Regions from separate parts of the Homo sapiens genome. Here all the other regions are linked to region 3. The links come from fine-mapping of genetic effects on gene expression. A gene starts in region 3. Each other region holds a variant in brackets. All regions are shown on one strand. Distances are from middle to middle.

Region 1 (5,506 bases), 36 kb before region 3:
GGATGCTGGGGCCATCGGCTCTCAGATGGCAACTCCCAGGGCCCAGTCTCGATGCCTCTGTAAATCTGTACAGTTTGCGGGCTTCTATTTACAGGCAAGAGGCCTGGGGAGGCAAGTCCAGGGTTGTAGTTGTTGGGAGAAGAAATCCAGAGAACACAGGAGGCAGCCACTCCTACCCCATGAGGCAGAGGGTCTGCTCCCTGTGTCCAGGGGCCCCCACCAGGAGGCCTGACAGGCGGCTTTGCCAACCCCAGGGGGGTTTGGCCCACACACCCTAAGCCCTGCCCAGCCCTGGTTGCCACCCACATGCCTCCAGCGATCAAGGGGACCAGTCTTTCAGGCAAGGCCCCCATCTGGCCTCCTGGCCTCCTGGAGACAGGGTCTGGGCTCTCCAGGTCCTGGCCTGCCTCGTGCTCTGGCAGCCAAGGCCCCAGAGGCTCTCAAGCCACAGAAGCTCCCTCTCATTTGGAACTCCCTGTGCTTCCAGCAAATGCCAAAGCCCCTCAGAACACTCCATCACAGGCAGGGGTAGGGGGACATGAGGGCCCTGCACCCACATTGCACCTGGGAGAGCCTAGCTGGTCCTCACTGAACTCTCTTGGACTGCCTTGCCCCGGTCAGGCCGGCCAGGGCAGATTTGGGCTGGTCAGACTCCTCATCCTCAGGAGGATAAAGCCTGGACATCTGCCTTGGGTCCAGGGATCCATGAACAAGGCCCCTGGCCTCTTCTCTCAAATGCTAAGGACACAGAGAAGAGAAGCCAGTGCCTGGAGCCCAAGCCCCAAATCAGAAGCCAACCCCTGGGATGTGAGGAGCCAGGCCTGCCGGGGCCACCCCCACCATTGGCTCCAGCCCTACTGAGAAACTGCACCCACTGTTGGGTCTCCCACCTGGGGTCCAGCATCTTCTGGGGCTGGGGGCCCAAGCCCTTTTCTCCTCTATCCTCCCTGGTTTCTCAGCCTCGGCCTGCCCAGGCCGTCTCACCAGAGCTGTGCTCTCCAAGACAGCAGCACCCCAGGGAGCAGGGTAGGGAGGCTGAGCCTTGTGGTCTGTGGCCCCAGGACCCAGCCCTTCTGCTCCAAAGATGACTGAGGCCAACCCGCCCCCTCCAGATATCAGGGGCCCCCCATGCCCACTCTTCTAAGGCTGGGTCCACCTGGCTTCCTCACAAGCCTCTGGGCCCTGTGAAGGAGGGTTTTGGGACTGGAAGATGGAGCCCAGCCTGGAAAAGACAGGCTGTGGGACAGCCCCTGGAACCTCCCCCTCACTGCCTACACACCGCTACCCCTCATCCTGCAGAAATCTGCTGCCAGGGCATCTTGAAAAGGGCCCTGAAATAAAACCTGCCTTCCTGACTTGAATCTGGGATGTGGGTGAGGGGTGGGGGTGTGAGTGCCAGCCAATCGCAACTCACACCACATCCCTTTGGCTCCAAGAGGCCCCCTGCCAAGCACACCCTCCCCAAAAGATCTGTGACCCCACATTTAAAATACCGATGGAAATAGCCCTACTTGCTAGGTAACAAAGGAAGTAACCCCTCCCCCACTATCACCTGGTCTCATCCCTCAAACCCTGACCTCGGGGCCTGAGGGATCTGCAGGGGCTGCTTCCAGCCATGGCCCCTGAAGCTGCAGCCAGAATTGTTTGGCCAAATAGGTGAGGGGGTGTCCACAGGGAGGGCCTCTGGGCAGGTGGGCTGAGGTTGGCCTGCCAGGCAGAGGGCAGAGGGTGCGGAGGGCCCGCCCTCACAGGCACTTTGGAGACTTGTGTCCTGGGAGGCAGAGTCAGCCCCCTAGCTCAAAGCAGGAAGGGGACACAGGGAGATAAAGGAGCCCAACCACATGCCCCCTCCCTGCCCTGGGCCTTCCGTCCTGGGAGACCCAAGACCCCCCAACAACCTGGGGCCAAATTTCCTTCCTCAGCCTTAGAGGAGCCCCCAGGCTCCCAGCTAGTGGGGGTCTGGCCCCAAACCTCCCCCTCTGCCAGCTGCGGTGGGGAGGAAGCAGGTAGGGGTGAAGCCAGGCCCACCTGCATGCAATGCCCTAAAAGGGCTGTGGCCCCACACTTTTTCCGAGAAAGGCAAGGGCCTGCCTGTTTCCCTCCAGCATTGAGAGCAGGTCATGTGGAGTGAGACTGTGCATCCACATGGGATTGTGTCTGACACTGGCTGGGGTTGG[C/T]GGCTGCATGGTTGGTGTGGGCACCATGGCATGGGACTGAGTATGACGGGGCAACTTAGGGGGACCCAATATGGGCTGATTGTTCTGGCTCGATTCCACCCTCCCCAGTAAGCCTGAAAGCTGGAGACAATGTGTGTGGTGCCAGAGTGTGGGTGTATTTGGGGTAGGAGGAGGCCACACTGTCACTGTCATGTGACCATGACTAGTGACTTGCATTGCAGTACGTGTCTGGGGGTGTGTAAGTGATGCATGAGGATAAACATTCTTGGAAGGACGCGTGTGTTCTGTGATATGTCTTGATTGGCTGGGCGGTCAGGATTGCGTATGGTTTTGTCATTGCATGCTTTTGTCTTGTGTGTGACTGAGTGAAAATATGGTGATAGTGTGGGCAATGGTGTCTGTGCAGAGTCCCCTCATAGGAGGGACATCAGAGCAGCCCCTCCTCACCAGTGGCTGCCCCAGCACCCTCAGGAAGCTGTTTCTTGGGGGAAGATGCAGAAAGAAATGAAGTCTGGGTACATGTGTACTTGGCAGGCAAGAGGAGAGATTCAACAACCCCAGAGAGACCAGGACAAAACAGGCTGGTGACAAGGGACACCCTCTCACCCAGCTAGAGAGAGGCCCTGGGATACGAGCAAGAGGTTGCAGTGTCTAGATGATTTCAAGGGCTGTGTTTACCAAATGTTTGTCCTGGAAACCAGCCTGAGTGCCTCTCTGCCCCAAAAAGGAGATCTCAGTGAGCACTGTGGGTGCCAAGTCAGGGCTCAGGCTCATCTCAAGCCCCACCCTTTCTTCCACCACCAGCCAATCAGGAGCTTTCTTCCTCCCATCCATCTGACATGAGGTCCTGAAGCCCCAGACTGGTGGCAGGGATGAGGGGAACAAGAGATGAGCTCGTAAGGGCACAGTCTGGGGCAGATGGCAGCAGCCCCTCTTCCTCGGGGAAGATCTGTGTGAGGCTGGCAGCCTGGGCAGACCTTGGGAGAGAGGGCAGAGAAGAACTGGGGCCAGGTTCCAGGCCCAGTCCCAGGCTTGGGCTGGTGGGGCCAGGCTGGGGACTGGACAGCAGGGTGGTGTTGAGGCTGCAGGGAGGCACTGTGGCTCCACTAGGCATAGAACTCCTCCTGCTTGTCAGGCTTCTGGTATGTGACGCTCGCCTGCTTGGGTTCCTCCAGCGTGTAGCTGCCCTCATCCTTTTTCTTCATACGATAGATGAGCAGTGTGACCAAGAAGGCAGCAAAGAGGGCGCCCACCACCCCGCCCACAATCACAGCTGTGGAAGAAGAGGGCACAGGTCAAGGCCCAGAGGCAGGGTAGAACCAGGGCAAAGGGTCCTCAGGGGTGGGGGCCAGGGTGAGGAGAGGGCTGGGAGTCCCAGATCTGAGTTGGAGTGATGATGGAGTCAATACTACTACTACCAGCACTGGGTACCATCATAGGCCTTCACTGGCTGCATTCTAATCGCCCAACACACTAACTCACTGAACCCTCACACCAGCCCTATGAGGGAGGGGTCATCTGAGGGCTTCATCAAATTTAAAATGCCACCACTCATAAGATGCCCCAGTATTTTATAACTGCTAGGAAAGAAAAAGCTCTGCTAACTAAATATGACATACCCCAACTACAGAAGACTTAACATGTGAACAGATGTGCCTCTTAGAATTGATTAAGGGCAAAATGACTATCCCCATTCTACCGATGAAGAGAAGGAAGACTGGAGAGGTGAAGTACCTTGCCTTGAGTGCAAAGCCAGGATTTGAACCAGGAGTCCACAGACTCCCTAGATGCGGCCAGGGCAGGTCCACAGGGACTGGGGTCAAAAACTGGGGAAGGTCAAGCTGAAGGATGGGTCAGAGATTAGCATCTAGGAAGTAAGGTCCCAGGGGGTCAGCCAGTGTGGCCCAGGAAAGCAGGGATCAAAGTCAGAGTCCACAGAGGGGTCAGAGGACACTGAGGGAAGACCTAGAGATGGACATGAAGTCAGGGTTGGATATTGGGAAGGAGGAAAGTTGGGAGGAGCCAGAAGGCAGGTCCTGGGGGGTTGAGTTCTCAAGTTTCCTTCCTATCTGGCTCCTAGGAAACCACGCCCTGATCTCCTTTCTGGGTTCCTAGAGGCAAACTGAGGCCCAGCCAGCTGTCTCACTCTGGTATCCTCCCAGGCTCCCCTTGGCCCAGACCCCAAGCCTCACCTACGAGCACCTCCTTCCGCTCCAGGATACTCTTCTGAGGCAGCTGAGCAGCTGAGCTGCCCGAGTCGATGGCATTGTCCAGGAGGCCAGGGCCCGGGCGGGCACCCTTGGGCAGTGTCCCAGGTGGAGATGATGCCTTGGCCGCAGCCCCTCCCACAGCTACCACCTCATTGGCTGTGTCTGGTTGTGTGGTCTCTTCTTCTGGCAGCTCGAAGTCTCCACTGGGCCCCCCACTCACCGGAACCTCTGGCTCATCCCGGATTGTGGTCAGGAAGGTCTCTGGAGTTGGGGTCTGCAGAGAGGGTGGCATGAGCCCAGGACAACCACACATGCATGCATAACCCCCCACCACCATCCTACTGCCCTGGGGGGCTAACACTTAGCACTCCCTACATGCCAGGCACTGTGCTACACACTATCCCCATGAAGGAGTGTAACAATGCCCCCAGTTTACAGAGCAGGAAGTCAGCTCAGAGCATAAATGACCTGCCCAAGGACACACAGCTAGTAAGTGGGGGACAGAACTAAAATTCAGATCTATCTGTCTCCACAGTCTGTGTTTCTAACCACTAACACACTGCCTCTGTTCTTGCTCTGGACATCCTGTCCCCCTCATGTCCCCTCCAGCTGCCTTAGTAACAATCCTTGGGGGATTCCTGCCGAGAAGCTGTTTGGGAACTGCTGGGTGCAGATGCTATGGATGTGGGCCTGGTCCCAGTCCATGCCTAAGGCAGGGGAGCATTCTGTAGCCTGGAGGCCAGTCCAAGAGCACAACCTGCAGACTATGATGGCCTCAGGGGCAGGTGTCCCGGAAACCAGCTCAGTGACTGACAATCTCTAGGGCTCCCACCACTCGGAGGCAGGATCAGAGCTGGGAATGATGAGACCAAAGTGGGGGCTGTGGGAGCCATCAGAGCAGGGATGTCGCTACTTCAAAGGTGGGCATGGAAAGGCAGGCCTGATGTCCAGGCTGAAAAGAGGCTGCAGCAGTGCCCCAGCGTACACAGCGTGCACAATGGCTCCTCCAGCAACCTGGGCCCTGTGCACCTTCTCCTGGGCTCCGTGCCCCATCACTGTTTCCCCTTCCTGCTTGGCCAAGTCTGTGTGAAAACACCAGGCTGCCCCAGCTGCTTGAGG
Region 2 (5,506 bases), 220 kb after region 3:
GACAAGACTCTCTGCTTGTTCTTGGCAGACGAAAAAAGAAAATGGACAAGGCCTTTAATAGGATTACAACTACATTTTACTCTCCACATTTCCTTCTTTATTAAACTTTCTATATGCCACAATTTTAACATTGATATCAGCCGGGTGCAGTGGCTCACGCCTGTAATCCTAGCACTTTGGGAGGCTGAGGCAGGTGGATTACCTGAGGTCAGGAGTTCGAGACCAGCCTGGCCAACATGGTGAAATCTCATCTCTACAGAAAATACAAAATTAGCCAGGCATGGTGGCGCATGCCTGTAATCCCAGCTACTTGGGGGGCTGAGGCAGGAGAATCACTTGAACCGAGGAGGCGGAGGTTGCAGTGAGCCAAGATCGTGCCACTGCACTCCAGCCTAGACAACAAGAGTGAAACTTTGTCTCAAAAACAAAACAAAACAAAACAAAAAAATTTGATATCTTGTGCTTTTCAAAGTTGTTATGAGATGTTAGACTAAATGATCCATCACTAGGCTCTGAAACATTCTTTATTGCTTTATTATAATATAATTAAATTGTGGCCAGGCACGGTGGCTCACACCTGTAATCCCAGCACTTTGGGAGGCCAAGGCGGGCAGATCATGTGAGGTCAGGAGTTTGAGACTAGCCTGGCCAATATGGTGAAACCCCATCTCCACTAAAAATATAAAAATTAGCCAGCATGGTGGCAGGTGCCTGTAATCCCAGCTACTCAGGGGGCTGAGGCAGGAGAATCGCTTGAACCTGGGAGACAGAGGTTGCAGTAAGCCGAGATCGTGCCATTGCACTCCAGCCTGGATGACAAGAGTGGAACTCCATCTCAAAATAATAATAATAATGATAATAGTAAAATTGCAGGAAAAAATGTAGTACTAAGAAATTGACCCAGAAGGAAAAGGGAAGGAAAAGGAAAAGAGGGAGAAAATAAGAAATAGGGAGGCCATTCTGAGAGCATCTAACATACAGTCCAGGAGTTGAGAATGGGGTGGATGGCAAATACTTTAAGAAATAAGATCTGAGGATTTTTCCAGAATAGAAGAAAGACATGAGCCTTCAGATTAAAAGTACCTAAATACTGAGTAGCTTCAATAAAAATAAGTCATCAAACACATCAAACTGATAGCTGTGGTAGCCTCTAAAAGGGTTGGGATTGGTTTGATGCTCATAGGAGATCTTTGCCTTAGCTGTAATGCATACATTTTTTATAAGGAGACTGGATCGGTGCGTCTCACATGCAGTCAGGAACTATTTTTAAAATAACCTAACCAGACTCAAATGTTGAATTCCTAACTGGAAAGCTAATCACTTGGAAGCCAGGGGGAGACGTCTTAAGCGAGCAGCCACTTGAATCATCACATAGGGTATCTGCCCTCAAAGAGCCAGAGCCTAGGGGAGGAGACAAAGCCCCAGAAAAATATACTGGGAAAACTCCCAATATAGACGGAGATATCAATTGCTGGCACCACCAGCCCGTGTTGATGATACGCTATGTGCCTAACAAACAGTAGCTGATCTAAACTTCATGGCAATCCTACAAGGCTGGGCTATCATTATTTCCACATTATAAAGAATCTGAGGCTGGGCGCACTTTGGGAGGCCAAGGCAGGCAGATCACTTGAGGTCAGGAGTTTGAGACCGGCCTGGCCAACATGGTGAAAACCCGTCTCTTTTAAAAATACAAAAATTAGCCAGGCATGGTGGCACATGCCTGTAGTCCCAGCTACTTGGGAGGCTGAGACAGGAGAATTGCTTGAACCTGGGAGGCAGAGGTTGCAGTGAGCCAAGATTGTACCATTGCACTCCAGCCTGGGTGACAAGAGTGAAACTCCATCCCCTGTGCCAAAAAAAAAAAGAGAATCTGAGGCTTAGAAAAAGTAAGGTGGCCAGGTGTGATGGCTCATGCCTATAATCCCAGCTCTTTGGGAGGCCAAAGTAGGTGGATGATATACCCCAGAAGTTGGAAACCAGCCTGGGCAACATGGTGAAACCCAGTTTATACCAAAAATACAAAAATCAGCCTGGCATGGTGGTACATGCTTGTGGTCCCAGCTTCTCAGAAGGCTGAGGTGAGAGGATCTCTTGAGTCCGGGAAATCGAGGCTGCAGTGAGCTGTGATCACACCACTGCACTCCAGCCTGGGTGACAGAGTGAGACCCTGTTTCAAATAAATAAATAAATAAATAAATAAATAAATAAATAAATAAATCAGAGCTGTGCTCTTAATTAATTAATTAATTTTTGAGAGGGAGTCTTGCTCTGTCTCCCAGGCTGGAGTACAGTGGCGTGATCTCAGCTCACTGAAACCTGTCTCCTGAGTACAAGCGATTCTCCTGCCTCAGCCTCCCAAGTAGCTGGGATTAGCACACCTGGCTAATTTTTGTATTTATGGTAGAGATGGGGTTTTGCCATGTTGGCCAGGCTGGTCTCAAACTCCTGACCTCAGGTGATTTGCCTGCCTCAGCCTCCCAAAATTCTGGGATTACAGGCGTGAACCACCGCACCCAGCCCGCTCTCAATTTCATATTTTGCAAATGCAGTGAGGACACAGAGGAGACGAGGTTTTAACTTGCATTTGTGGATGAGGGGCCTAGAGAGGAGCAGGGCAGGAGACATTTGAGTGGGCCTTGAAGGGCAAATAGGATTTTGCCGGAGCTGGAAGAAAGGACCGTCTCACAGAAGATAACTCATGAGCAAAGTGGCAGGGCTGGATGTGGCCTGGGGGGAGTAGGTGAAGTAGATGTGAGCAGGAGGCGAGTGTCCCAGTGAGGGGAGGTCTCTGATGGTCTTTTATGTACTTGAGCTTAAACCCCAGACTATGAATGAGTGACCCACCTGCTCTGTCCTGTTTCTTTTCTTTTTTTTTTTTTTTTGAGATGGAGTCTCGCTCTGTTGCCCCGGCTGGAGTGCAGTGGCACAATCTCGGCTCACCACAACCTCCGCCTCCCAGGTTCAAGCTATTCTCCTACCTCAGCCTCCCCAGTAGCTGGGACTACAAGCATGTGCCACCATGCCCGGCTAATTTTTGTAATTTTAGTAGACACGGGATTTCACTATGTTGGCCAGGCTGGTCGAGAACTCCTGACCTCGTGATCCACCCGCCTCGGCCTCCCAAACTGCTGGGATTACAGGCGTGAGCCACCGCGCCCAGCCTCCTCAGTTTCTTTTCAGTTCAGAGTACATGAGAC[A/G]AAAGTGCTCAGACAGCGCCTGGTGCATCCTAATTCTCAGTATGTTCGTTATAATTAGTTTTGATACAAGCAAGAGTAGTTGCCTTCTCACATTTCTGTATCAGCCATGACTTGTTTCAAGTGACAGAAACCCAGATCAGACAAATGGTTTTTATTTTGTTTTCTTTTGGAAGACTGGCATCACCATGGAAAGTGCAAGGGTCCAGGTTGCAAGGGTTCAGGGATGGCTAGATCCAGGGTCTCAGACGCTGCCCAGTCTCTCATCTCTGCTTCTTTCCACCTGAACTCTATTGTTCCAAACCTACGCTGGAGTCATGGTGGCCAGTGGCCATAGAGTCTCCCATCTTCACCACTGAACTGGAAGTCAGAGTCATTCTCTCTAGCTCCAGGTTTAAGCAATCTTGGGGTTAAATACACTTTGACGTAACATGGCCAGGGAGGTGGGGCCTGTAAGACTTGGGGGCACCCATTTGGAACACATGGTGTATGTCGGGGAAAGGAGGATAGGAACATTCCCCAGAAGAGTGAGGTGTAGTTTCTGGGCAGATAAAACAATAGAATTCACTGTAACTTCACTTACATCCAAAAAAAAAAAAAAAAAAAAAAAAAAAATTCTTGCCCATACTGTTTTTTGTCTAGTAACAGAATGGGTGTCTTTTGTTTACAAAGATTTAACATCAATGGCCAGATTCTGTGTGTGCATGCTTGTGCAGTTTACATCAGCATATTTTCTTCTGTACACAGGATTGGAAAACTTGTTTTTCTCTCTGTAATCTTGTAACATCTTCTTTTTGTCTCTTTGTTCTGAAATTTTTGCCAGGTTACCTTGGCATGAACCGATTTTCATCCAATTTTCTAGGAACTTAGTAGATCCTATGGAAACCAATGTTCTTTAAACTTCTTGAGTTTTCTTTGAGGATTTCCTTCCCTCTGTTTCCTCTGCTTTTTCTGGAACTCTTGAAACTGAAATATTACACTTCCTAGACAGGCCCTCTGATTTTCTCATTTCTGCCCTATTTTATTTATTTATTTATTTATTGAGACATGGTCTCGTTTTGTCACCCAGGCTGGAGCACAGTGCCATGATCTCTGCTCACTGCAACCACCACCTCCCAGGTTCAAGCGATTCTCCTGCCTCAGCCTCCCAAGTAGCTGGAACTATAGACACATGCCACCATGCCCAGCTAATTTTTGTACTTTTTGTAGAGACAGAGTTTCACCATGCTGCGAAGCTGGTCTTGAACTTAGGGACTCAAACAATCAGTCTATCTTGGCCTCCTAAAGTGCTGGGATTACACGTGTGAGCCACTATACCTGGCCCTATTTTCTGTCGATGTTGTTTTGCATTATTTTCTGTGATCTTCCTGTAACATAACTCCAACTCTTCTAATTTTCATTGCTATTGTCATTTTTATTTCAATACCTGTTTTATATGTGTGTCAAACATGATTTTACACAGAAAACTGTTTTAGTTTTTTTTTTTTTTTTTTTTGACAGGCTGGAGTGCAGTGGCACAATCTCGGCTCACTGCAACCTCCGCCTCCTGGGTTCAAGCAATTCTCCTGCCTCAGCCTCCCGAGTAGCTGGGATCACAGGTGCCTGCCACCACGCCCAGATAATTTCGTATTTTTAATAGAGACAGGTTTCACCATGTTGGCCAGGCTGGTGTCAAACTCCTGACCTCAGGTGATCTGCCTGCCTCGGCCTCCCAAAGTGCTTAGATTACAGATGTGAGCCACCGTGCCCGGCGTTTTTTAGCTTTTTAAAAGCATCTCTACATGCAAAACAAAGAACAAACTTCTTTGACCCCAGAGAACTTGAACTCAGAGAATTGCTTGAACCCAGCCACTATGCCCGGCCCAATTAAAAAAAAAATTTTTTTTGAGACAGAGTCTCACTCTGTCGCCCAGGCTGCAGTGCAGTGGCGCTTTCTCGGCTCACTGCAACCTCTGCCTCCCAGGTTCAAGCAATTCTCCCACCTCAGCCTCCCGAGTAGCTGTGACTATAGGCACACGCCACCATGCCTGGCTAATTTTTGTATTTTTAGTAGAGATGGGGTTTCACCACGTTGGACAGGCTGGTCTCAAACTCCTAACCTCAGGTAATCCAGCCACCTCAGCCTCCCAAAGTGCTGAAATTACAGGCGTGAGCCGCCGCGCCCGGCCTGTAAATTTTTTAAAAAAGAACATAATCAGTGGGGCACAGTGGCTCATGCCTACAATCCCAGCATTTTTTAGGAGGCCGAGGCAGGTGGATCACCTGAACTCAGGAGTTCAAGACCAGCCTGGGCAACATGGCAAAACAGT
Region 3 (5,506 bases):
CCACTTCCCACCACCTCACCAGGCGCCCCAGTACCTGCCCTCCCCCAGGCCCCACCCACCATTTCAGCCTCTGGGCTCAGACTCCCAGGGTCTGCTTGATCTGCCACCCAACACTGGGTCTGAGCCACACCTCTCAGATTCAGGTCACCCGTGTTGCGAGGCCCTACTGTGCATGAGGCTATTAAATGCTCTCACTAAGTCCTTCCACCACCTCGTGGAGTATGAATTATTAGCCTTATTCAGCAAGGAAAGTGGCCTGCCCAGCGCTCCACCTGGCCTCCAAGTCTAAAGCTTTCTGTCCTGAGCCCCTTTCATTCATGTGCACACCACATGACTCCTGAGCTCCTTCTCAGGACACTCGTCAGTCATCCCATTGAATTTTTGCCCTCTGAGGAAGGGGTCATTAGCCCCATTTCACAGAGGGACAACCAAGGGTCAGAGAAGTAAGAGGACCTGCCCAAACCATGCCACGAATCGGCGGGGGTAGCAGGATTGGAACCCAGGGTTGTGTGATTCCCAAGCCTTTGATTTTAAGGATGGTCTTTCAGAAATTTGGCTGAGAAGGCGACCCCAGCTGCTAGGGTGTGCTGGGTCTCTATCCCTCCCAGGGACCTCTTCCTCTCACCCCACTTAGGGGAGAGCTGGGAATGAGACATCCTGGCCAGCAGGCACTTCACACAGGTCAGCCCTCAACACTTCCCCTCCCTCCAGCTGACAGCCCCCTAGATGGGGAAGGCTGAGGAGGGGCCTGTCCATCCAAGAAGCAAGCTTGGAGCCCCTGCCTGTCCTCCTCCTGTCTTACTGACTGGCCCACTGAGGCTGGGAAAGGGAAGGAACTTGCAGAGGGCGGCTGGGCACCCAGTGTTGCTTGAGAGGCCTGGGTCCTTTTCAGCCTGGGGGATGCAGGACAGCATAGCTCCTGGAACCAACCTGGGAGGCTGGACCTAGAAATCCCCAGCCCGCCTGAGCCAGAACCTGGACACTTGTCCAACAAGAACTCATCTGGGGCCTGGATCCCTCAAAGGGGGATGAGGTCCTTCCTTTCTCTGCCATCCCTGACGGAGCTGGGACCAAGCATGGCTGCTACGGTCACTCAAAGGGACACTCAAGGGTCACCTCATACATACCATCACCTCCACCTGCACATGCTTGGTTCCCCTCAGGGGTCCTCGTCCTATGTCCAGGGTCCCCCATGCACCTGCATGCACACGCTGCTATGTGCACTCACACACATTCATGGGTCCAAGCACACGCCCACCAGAGGTCTTTCACACACACACCCTCACCCACTGCAGCCACACACGGCCATAGCCAACAGTGGCCCAGCCAGGCACAGGCACACATCATGCACAATGGGTCACCCTCCCACGACCACGGACGGGAGGGCACGCTGGCATCCACCCATGTGGCAGACACATCCTTCACCTGCACACGCCCCACAGGTCCCCGCACCCCTCACTGAGTTGGCCACACACGCCCACACACGCCCACACACAGGGTTACCCTCACTCCCCCCTCAGGTCACCTTCACCAAGTCACCCTCCACCTCCACCTCCCCTTCCCGGGCCCACTGCCCTGGCCGGCTGCCGCGACCCTGGGAAGAACCAAATGCACACCCTCCCCTCGGAAGGGGAACCGATCCGATTCCCAAAAAGTGGCCATGGTCTGGGCACACCCACGAGGCAAAAGCCAGGCTCACTCCCACCCCAAGACACACCCAGCCGGGACGGCGACCCCCAGCCCGCCGCCGGGTCCTTCTCGCGCCTCCCAGGCCAGCGCAGGGGTCCCGCTTCGTCCCCGGGGAGACAGTTCCCGGAGCCACTGGGAGGTGGGGGAACAGGGCTGAGGACCCGCGATCGGGTTCCCTCCCGGGATTCCCTCTGGGGAGGGGTCCCAAAAGGAAGGAGAGATGCGCCCCCCGAAGATGACCAGCGGCGGGGGCGGCCTCTCCCCGCGGATGCCAGCTAGGGGGAGATTCCGGAGGGGGGGGAGCAGGGTGCAGAAAGGGGCGCTCGGGGGAGGGTCGAGGGGTGGCAGGGACCGCGGCCCCGGGGGAAGCAGCCGGGGGGGAGGGAGCGGGGTCCCGGAGGGGGGGTCGCGGGCGGGGACCGGCACCCCGCGCGGGGGGCGGCCCCGGGGAGCCGTGGCGGGGATCCGGGCGCGTGTCACTCACCCCCGCGGCGCGCCCCGCCAGCAGCAGCAGCAGCAGCGGTGGCAGGAGCAGCCCGCGGGCCCCGGGCCCGGCCGCGGCCCCGGCCCCGGCGCCGGCCCCGTGGGCGGCCCCGGCACGGTGCGGCGGCCCCGGCTTCATGGCGGCGGCGCGGGCGCGGGCGGCGGGCGGCGGGCGGGCGCCTTTGTTCCCGAGGCGCGGCGCGCGGGGCGGCTGCTTGGCGGCGGCGCGGCCCGGCGGCTGGACCGACGCGCTCTAGGCTCGCGGGCTCCCGGCTCGGCCGCCCGGCTCCGCCTCGCAGCTCCGCGCCCACAGCGGCCGCGCCCGCAGGAAGCGTGCGCCGCCGCCGCCGCCGCCGGGCCGCCCCCAGCGCGGGCGGAACGGAGGAGGGGCCCGGGGCGGGGCGGGCCCCAGTGCGCCCCCCGCGGGGCTCCGCGCCCTCTGACCCCAGTCCCAGCCCCCGCCCCCACCCAGAGGGAGCCCCGCGCTGCCGAGTGGGCACCCGGACACCTGAGTGAGCAGCCGGCCTCGCCGATCCCGGGGCTGGAGGTCGCGGAGCCCGCCGGACGCACCTCCGCGGCCGCCGTGCTAGGTAGAAGGGAAGGGTCCCGCGTGGGATACCAGGGCCCGGGCCTGGCTCCCTGAAGTCGCCGAGCGGAGGGGTCGCATGGGCGTTTTCATCTACAGCCTCCCCCTGTGGCTCCACGCACGTGTCTCTTCCTGGACTCCCATCGTCACCCTCACACACTCAGCCAGTCCACCCAGTGGGCCAGAGGTCATCCAAGACCACGGGCTTTCATGCCTCCAGGACACCCAGGGGCTGTGTGACCTCAGATCAGGGCCCGGCCCTCTCTGGGCCTCGGTCTCCCCAGGGGACCATGGGGGTGGTCACTTCTGGGCCCTGTCACTGTGGATCTGCAGAGGAAAAGCCACGCAGACCTGAGCGCAGCTGCTTCCACACCAGCTGTGCGCCTCCAGCAAGGCCCCCAGTTCTCTGAGACTCAGACCCCCCATGGTTGAATGGGACCACCCCCTCCAGTGCAGGATGGCGAGAAAAGTACATCTCTGAGTGGCAGTCTCTAGCGCTGGTGGTCTTTCTACCCTGTGTGGTCACGGTGCCTTTTCCCCCTTCACCTTCATCCCCAGCGGCATACCCCATGCTGTTCTTACTTCTCCAAGTCTCCAATGGCGTGTTAGCTCCAGCGGGGGCAGGGTTTTGTGTCTGTCTTGTTCACTGCTATGTCCCCAGCACCAGCACAGAGCTCGGCATGACATCGATGCTCAATCCAAATTTGCTGAATCAATGAATGTGTTTCCCATTTACTGGGGCTCAAAACCAAGTGTTTTGGGGCAAGATAGGGGAGAGTGAAACATTTCTGGAACCCTGACCACATGCCAGGTGCCCAGCGCTTTCATGTGTTATATCATTTCTCAGGAACCCCATAAGGTCGGTCTGTCAATATCTTCACTTCTTAGGTGGGGAAGCTGAGAGCCAGCAAGAAGAGGTTATTTGCTGATGACAGCTGGCTGGACGTCTCTACCCTCAGTTACTCTCCTCTCTGGCCCCTGTGTCCCAGCACCCAGCTTAGAGCCTGCCATTAGAAAATAGGAATGAAATCAGGCCGGTCGTGGTGGCTCACGCCTGTAATCCCACCACGTTGGGAGGCCGAGGCGGGTGGATCACGAGGTCAGGAGATCCTGGCCAACATGGTGAAACCCCGTCTCTACTAACAATACAAAAAAATTAGCCGGGCGTGGTGGCGGGCGCCTGTAGTCCCAGCTACCAGGAGGGTGAGGCAGGAGAATGGCATGAACCCGGGAGGCGGAGCTTGCAGTGAGCCGAGATCGCGCCACTGCACTCCAGCCTGGGCGACAGAGCGAGACTCCTTCTCAAAAACAAAAAAAAAAAAAAAAAGAAAAGAAAAGAAAATAGGGGAACGAAATTGAGTTGAAACTGGAACAATTCCCTCAAGGAAAGGGGAACCAAAACCAGGATGAATGGAGGGGCAGGCCTTGAGGAAGAGACTCTGGGGGACCAGCCATGGGTTTTTGGTGTTGGGGGTAACTGTACTTGTCCTGCAGGGCCCTTGGGAGGAGGACCAGGGGACAAAGGTCAACTCAACATAAAGTAGAGATAAATTAGAAGGGGCTCCCCAGGAGGGAGGGAGAGCCCAGTCCCTAAAGGGTATGAAAGGCAAGCTCACCACCCTTTGACAGGGATCCTGGACAGGGAAGACAGGGAGACTTTCGAACTAGGAATTCTGAGGTCCCAGCCTCTGAAAATTCAATTCTCAAATCTTTTGGCATGACATCAATGCTCGATCCAAATTTGACTGGCACCTTGGGGAGATGGGCAGGGAGGCTGATGGGGTGCAATAGGTGGGAAACTGGTTTCTGTTGAGGTAGCACAGCTTGGAATTGAAGAGCTCTGGCTCTGGGTCGGCCAAGTATCTGGGTTCAAATCCCAGTTCTGCCAGTTATGAGCTGTATTGTGTTGGATGTGTGACTTAACCTCTCTGAGCCTCAATTTCCCAACTGTAATATAGAGATAATGACCACGCAGAGTTCATTCATTCATTCATTTAGCAAGCATAAATTGGGTGCCTGCTGTGTGCCAGGCCAGGTACCAGGTTGTGAGGATTACATGAGCTCTTCCCTGCCATCGTAATGGAGTTCAATGAAGGTGGCTGGGAATGAAGCTTACAAAGGAAGGGACTCAGATGTAGGGATAACATCATCCTTCAGAGATGCTGAGCAGATCCCAGGAACATACCAACCCTGAGGCGCTCCCAAAGGGCCAGCAGGGTTAGGGTGGGGATTATGAGGAGCCAGATGTCAGCTGGCCACAGACAGCAGTGGCAATTCTAAGAGGCAGTAAGTATCCTGTCTTGAGAGGTATTCAAGGCTCGGAGAACTATCTAGCAGGGAGACCATTAGGATGGTTTCCATGAGTAAGATGGGCAGTGAGCATGGCCCATCTTCAGAGGTTCCTGCCAGCTCTGAGACTTCTGGAAGCAGCAACTCCACTTCCCTGACATCCTGGGGAAGAGGTGGGGGCGGGGCAGTGGAGAATCTTTGGTCTGGACAGGCCAGGAGCGCCACCTGCTGCTCTTCAAAGACACTGGTCACAGCCAGAACTAAGACAGGTCTGGGCCCCTGAAGGTCCTTCTCATCTTGCTCCCCCCGGGTCCCAGGTCTCCCTGGGGTTCACAGATGCACACATTTCCTGCCCTCAAGCACATGGGTCATCTGCACAGTCACCCTTGCCCAGGCCTCCTTGTGCATTGGAGCCACATCCCCACATACTCAGGGTCTCCCTTCATAGCACCATAACCT

Evidence for each region. PIP is the estimated chance that this variant, and not a neighbour inherited with it, causes the effect. A credible set is the group of variants that fine-mapping cannot tell apart.
Region 1: its variant is the best candidate, but not a certain one, in a credible set for the expression of SDC3 in tibial artery (GTEx, PIP 0.79).
Region 2: its variant is the best candidate, but not a certain one, in a credible set for the expression of SDC3 in whole blood (TOPMed, PIP 0.56).

The regions. Positions count from the first base shown.
Region 1 is chr1:30,869,928-30,875,433 of GRCh38, forward strand. SDC3 (syndecan 3) reads right to left here. Exons shown (of 5, transcript NM_014654.4): 4 at 4,370-4,661; 5 at 1-3,450. The coding sequence ends at 3,284. Among named protein-coding and RNA genes, the nearest start is that of SDC3, 36 kb to the right of the region's middle. RefSeq lists an enhancer at 609-1,480. The variant C/T (reference allele first, on the strand shown) is at 2,178.
Region 2 is chr1:31,126,142-31,131,647 of GRCh38, forward strand. No RefSeq gene overlaps it. Among named protein-coding and RNA genes, the nearest start is that of PUM1, 63 kb to the left of the region's middle. The variant A/G (reference allele first, on the strand shown) is at 3,201.
Region 3 is chr1:30,906,276-30,911,781 of GRCh38, forward strand. SDC3 (syndecan 3) reads right to left here and starts at 2,483. Exons shown (of 5, transcript NM_014654.4): 1 at 2,174-2,483. The coding sequence starts at 2,311. RefSeq lists a silencer at 2,438-2,527.